Linked DNA regions of Homo sapiens: region 1 is linked to region 2. The links come from fine-mapping of genetic effects on gene expression. A gene starts in region 2. The other region holds a variant in brackets. All regions are shown on one strand. Distances are from middle to middle. Region 1 overlaps CACNA1C (calcium voltage-gated channel subunit alpha1 C). Region 2 holds the start of ADIPOR2 (adiponectin receptor 2).

Evidence for each region. PIP is the estimated chance that this variant, and not a neighbour inherited with it, causes the effect.
Region 1: its variant is fine-mapped to the expression of ADIPOR2 in sigmoid colon (GTEx, PIP above 0.99).

What each region holds. Positions count from the first base shown.
Region 1 is chr12:2,136,303-2,139,211 of GRCh38, forward strand. The region is part of intron 3 of CACNA1C (calcium voltage-gated channel subunit alpha1 C); the gene reads left to right. All of the region lies in intron 1 of LOC107984131 (a long non-coding RNA gene), which reads left to right. Among named protein-coding and RNA genes, the nearest start is that of CACNA1C, 85 kb to the left of the region's middle. RefSeq lists enhancers at 1-24, 821-1,616. The variant G/C (reference allele first, on the strand shown) is at 1,529.
Region 2 is chr12:1,689,798-1,692,706 of GRCh38, forward strand. ADIPOR2 (adiponectin receptor 2) reads left to right here and starts at 1,273. Exons shown (of 8, transcript NM_024551.3): 1 at 1,273-1,394. RefSeq lists enhancers at 776-935, 956-1,005, 1,089-1,667 and silencers at 1,166-1,465, 1,486-1,575.

The sequences.
Region 1 (2,909 bases), 450 kb after region 2:
GCCATCTTGGCTCCTCCTCGAGACCTTTCTTGTAATCACCCCATTTTAAAGATGAGGAAGGGGCACAGGGCAATGAACTAACTTGCCCAAGTTTGCATAGCTATGAAGCAGTGGAGCTGGGATTCCAGCCTGGGTGTGTGGCTCCCAAGTCTGTGCTTTTAACTGCTATGCTGTGTGGCCCCCAACTAAGGTATAAATGGGAGGGGTATTTTGCTTTGAATACGATGCCTTAATTATCAGGCCTTCAACTAGAGTTTATGCAGTGTGTGCGCTTCTGTCTTTACCAAGAGGACCAAGGGAGGAGCAACAGTGAAGGAGGGAGTGAACGTCCCCAGGCTGGGTGGTGTCTGTAGGGGTCCTGGGGGCATGCCATGGAGCCCCCAGGCCATGCCATTTGGAAAGCATAAGGGGTAGGCAAAGGGGAGGCCTTTTCATCTGCTACTACCTGAGAGGTAGACTTGGCTTTGAGGCCATATTTTCCCAGGGATCAGTGATTCATATTACCTGAGATCCTCAACCAAACAGGCCCCCGGGCCTCTTCCTAAATAGATGAGAATCTCTGGTTGGGGTGAGGGAACCCAGAATCAGCCTGACTTTCTGAGACAAACTTAAAACTTGAGGGACCCTTCTCGTGGACTGAGTCCTTGGAAGCAGATCTTGGGAGCTGCTGGGCCTGCATTTGAACTTGGGGCCTTCATGGGACCCCAGTCAGTACTGGTGGTTGGCAGGGCTCAGAGCATAACATGTGGGGGACCCCACGGCGCCCCGCCCAGGTGAGAGCAGTCCCCCTCTCGTGCCGAGAGGCTCCACAGGTTTTGCCTGTGCACCCTAGGCCCCACTGGAGACGTGGAAACATCGAAGAGCTACGGCCTGAACACCAGGATGTGGGATGGGTAGTAAGAGAGTGCTGAGCTGCATGTCCTAGCCCTGGGCTCTGGTTCCAGTTCTACCTCTGCCTGGTGGCACGGCCTTGTCACTTCACTTCTCTGAGTTTTAGGTTTCTCGGCTGTGAAATAAAGATAATAATTCCTACCTCACTGAGTTATGGCAAGGGCAAATGAGAATATAGATAGAAATGCTCCGCCCAGCTCTACCAAAAAAAAAAGTATATATATACACACACATACACACACATTAGCTGGGCATGGTGGCTTGCACCTGTAGTTTTAGCTGCTTGGGAGGCTGAGACGGGAGGAGTGCTTCAACCCAGGAGTTCAAGGCAGCAGTGAGCTATGATTACACCAGGGTGATGGGGCGAGACCCCATGTTTATTTTTTAAAATGCTCTGGAAAAATGCAAAGTGCCATATAAACATAGAGGCATTATTGTGATCATTATTACTGTTATGATTCAAACTAGACAGATATATTTGTCTCTAAAATACTTACTGTTTTTTTTTTTCTGGCACATTCCTCTGTGAACCTTTTTCCTCAGCCTCCTCTCAAGATAACTTAGAGATGCAAAAGAACTAGAAGCCAAGTTCCAAATTTAGTTCTTGACCTTTCCAAGATGGGTGGTGAGTGGTGTG[G/C]CTGCAACCTGCCTGCTGCCAAGAGTCTGGCAGGGCTGCCGGGGTCCGGGAGCGCCAGGCCAGTGGACCCTGTCTTTGTGTGCAGTCCTGGAGCCGACACATCGCCTCACACAGGCGCCCCTGCCGGGAGCTCATGCGGGCCACTCCCTGTTTTCTCACTGGGTCTAGCTGAACTCTGGCACAGCGAGTGTAGCTGCTGAGTAGTTCGTTTGGTGCTGTCCTGTGACTTGCAAACCCCTTCCTCAAATGCATAGCAGAAATAGTGGGAAAACCCCAGGGCTTTTATTATCTGGGCTCTCGGGCACACAGTCAGAAACATGGCCTGGGGCAGCCTCTCTTCTCTGTGCCTTTGAGTCCTGAGGAACAAGGTCAGGCATCAAGAATAAGGAAGGCCAGGATATCCAGGAGGAGACCTCACGTCTGCACCGAGGCTTCATCAGATCTGACTGGAAGTGCTGTGGTCCCTGTGGCCAGGCCAGCCTTCACAGGGCTGGGGAGCACAAGCCTTGGTGTGGCCTGTGCTTGCAGATGGATCCTGGTTGTGTGGGGGAAGGCAGGTGGCAGGTGGTGGATGCTATGCTTGAGGGCTGGGCTGTGTACGCAGCTCACAGTGTGGAGGTGCTTGAACCCTGGCAGTTGGGCACGGTTGATAGGGACGGGCCTTGTGGGAGAAGGTGTCGAAGGCCAGGGTGTGGCTCCGAGTCCCACTTCTGCTAGACTGACCAGAGAGAGCAGGTAAGAGAGTGACCAGCAGCAGGCCGGGGTCACTTCCACGCTTCCTGCCCATCGGAGGAATGTTCCAGAGGTTATCCCAGAGAGAGGTGAAGCCCAACATGGTCTTTCAGCCACACGCCGGGCTCCCCTTCCCCTTCTGCCATGAGTGGAAGCAGCCTGAGGCCCTCACCAGAAGCAGATGCTAGAGCCATGCCTCTTGTGCGGCCTGCAGAACCGTGAGCCAAATACGCCTCTTTTCTTTTTAAGTAACCCTGCCTCAGGTATTCCTTTATAGCAACACAAATGGACTTAGACAATCCCCAAGGCCCAGACTTGGAGTCCCTTCTTGTAGGAAGTTTTCTCTGCTCCTCCATGACTGGCTTTGGTGCTGCCCTCTGTGTTTCCATAGCATTCTAGATGACCCCTATCAAAGCACATTTAGCCTCCTGCTTACTCATCTGCGTCTCTCAGTGTGTTTGTTTTCTAGCACTGCTGTGAAAATACCATGCATTTGGTGGCTTAAAACAATAGAAATTTATTGTCTCACAGTTCCAGAGGCCAGAGTTTCAAAGTCCAGGTGTTAGTAGCATTGGTTCCTCTGGGCACTCTGAGGAGTGTGTTCCGTGCTCCTGCCCTGGCTCCAGTGTTGCCAGCAGCGCCTGGCATC
Region 2 (2,909 bases):
AAAATTATATTTTCAATGTAAACCACTCCTTGGAGGAAATTAGTTCCTTTAACATTTATTTCCTAATTTTAATTTCTACTAGTTTTATCTCTTTCAAGCTTAAATGAGTGGGCCTTAGTTCTGTATTATTGCCATCTTAATCATGTTCTTTGTGATTTTAGTAGCTTTACTTTTTAAAACTTACATTTCCATAATGAAGACTTCTGTATTTTTGTTTTTTTCGTCATATATCCGACTCCAGCTCCCTCAAGACCTGTCAGCTTTTCCCTGCACCCTTTGTTATCTCTTGCTGTGGTCCAAAGGTAAGGACAGTAAGCCGTGGGCACAGACTTTCCCTAAATCGTATGGATTTCCTTTAGTCAATAACAAGAATTTTGATAGTTAAGGCATTTACGCCTTAAGAATGTGATAAATTCCCCCTCCTACTGAATGTAAAGAACTATTTTTCTACGCAGACTAACTCTTATATTCACTTTTCTTATAGAATAAGTACGTAACCAAATCTGTTCTTGGCTTCTAAGAAGTTAGAACTCAACGTAAAGATGACTTGTGGAAAATTACTTACTCATTCTGGGTAAATGGACGCAGGTATTTAGTGCTTAAGTAGGTTCTGATATACCATTACATTAACATCATTTTAAAAATCGCTCTGAATTATATGTATTTTAAGAGTGACTGGGTTTTAAAAAAAATAGAAGTGGTAGAGCATAAATCATAATCTTTAATAAGGTAATAAAAGGCAAACACTATTGCTCTGGGCAAAACTGGGCTAATGCTTTTGGATTTCTTTCCGCAGTCTTCACAGACGACGCTCAGCATCCTATCAGCCCTTGGCAGAGACACACGATCCAGCCTAAATCCTCAAATTCTGGCTCTTGCCCAAAGTGTGTAGCCAGTATCCATAGAGACTGCGAAAAGCATCCGCGAGCCGGGGCGGCCCCCTCCTCCTCAGCTCCAAATTGCTTCCTTTTTCGGTGGGAGAAAAAACTCCGAGGAGTTGTGTGAGCGCCTAAGGAGCGCACGCTCCTCCGGCCCTCAACACCCAGTATAGTTTTCGCTAAGTTCCTGGCCGAACCACAGCTCCCACGATGCACCCAGGTTTTAGAGCGGTCAGAGGGGCGGCTTCCGGTTTAGGACAGCGCGGCTGCGCACGGCGTGTGGTCTTATTGGCTCGAACCGCCTCGTGCGATGCGCGTCACGGCGACGTGCGGTCGTGGGGGCGGGGAGACGCGGCGGCGGCGGTCGCTGTCGCGGCGGCGAGAGCGCGATTCCAGAAGCGGCATCGCGGCGGCGGCAGCGGCGGCGGCTACACCGGGCTTGGCCCCCTCCCTCCTCCGTTCCCCCCTCCTCCCCCCTCCCCTCAGCGGTGGCTCCCAAGAAGTCCGAGACACGCGGTGAGGCGGCGACGGGCTCCGGGTGAGGGTCTCTGGAGTGTGGGCGCCGTTTCCTGGGCGCAGAGGGAGAGCTTGGGGTCGGGGGGAGGTGAGAGCTGAGGGGCGAATGTCCCTGGCGCGGGCGGGAGAGCGCGCTCTCGGCCCGGCCCGCAACTTGATTCCTAACTCTGACCTGCCGCCCGGCGCGCCTTGGCCTGAGGGTCGGCCGTGTGGGGACCTGGAGCCGCCCTCCTTGCGACCGCTGTCGGAGGAGTCCGGCGCCCGCTGTTCCCCTCGCCTCGCCTTTCGCGGCGGAGGGTCGGAGCCTGCTGCCCTCTGCTCACCTTCGGGTGCAGTTGCTCCAGCTCCCTGCCCGCGGAGAGGATCTGCCCGCCCCTCTTCGTCTCTTGTCTGTTTTTATCACTTCTAGGAATTTGTTTGGTGGAGGCTTGGGATGGGCTCTCTCAGCGCTACTTTCACAGTGACTGGGGTGGGGAAGAGTTCCCTCACCTTTTTCAGGTGGCGCGTCAGGCAGCCTGCTTGGTACCTGGAGTCCTGTTTTCCCAAGCCCCCGTCCGTCAGTGTTCGCTTCTTCTAAAATTACCGATGACAGGGTTATAAATCAGTTTTTAGGGGGCTCGGAGAGAGTTTGGGTTGGAAACTGTTAGCTCTTTTTTCCTCCTGGCTTTTGATCTTGATTTAAGCGTTTGCCTCTGAAATTTTGACAACTTCATAAGATGGTCCAAAAGTGAATTTTGGTAGAAAGATTTAAATGCACAGTTGGGATTTTATGGGGGTACGGTGACTTCATTGCAGGTTGTTGACTTTTTTTTTAAAATAAGATGTTCTTTTAATTTTTTGACTCTGGGTTTCTGAGCCTTGGTTATTGTCCCCCATTTCTGTTCCAAAAGCAGACTTTTTTTTTTTTTATCACCCCTTCCCCTCACCCAGAGAATCCCTTTAAACGCCAAGAAAGCTGTCATAACATTTAGCATTATTTGATCACAGAACTTTTCCAAATGAAATGCTAAAAATTCCTTCAGAAAAAAGCATCCATCTACCCATAGCATTATTTTTTGGGGGGAGGCTATACGTCTTGTCAGTTCTGAAAGTTTGAAGTGACCTCTTATCAAAGGCCACCCTTATGTCTCCTTAAACGACTCTTAGGTAATTCCTAGATGTTTTCATCCGTTCTGATAAATTTGTTGTCAGAGTGTTGATTGTGATGATCTGCAACTAAAATTATTTCATCAGTAAAGATTTCCACACATGTGGCAGCTGCTTGTTGGTGAATTATGAAATTTGAAAAAATTGCAAATTAAATGTGAAAGGCATATTTCTTTTAACTTCTGATTGTAACTGTCTGTCCTCCAGTATACGTTCCTATCTAGACTTTGGTCTGCTTAGCAGATTTCCTCTTTTCACTTGACACTAGGAATGGGAGTAGGATTTCCAGAGCCTAAAAGAGAGTTTGTTTTTTTTTTCTATCCCTAGGCTCCTTGTATGAATTTATAAATAAATGGTTTTTTCTATCAA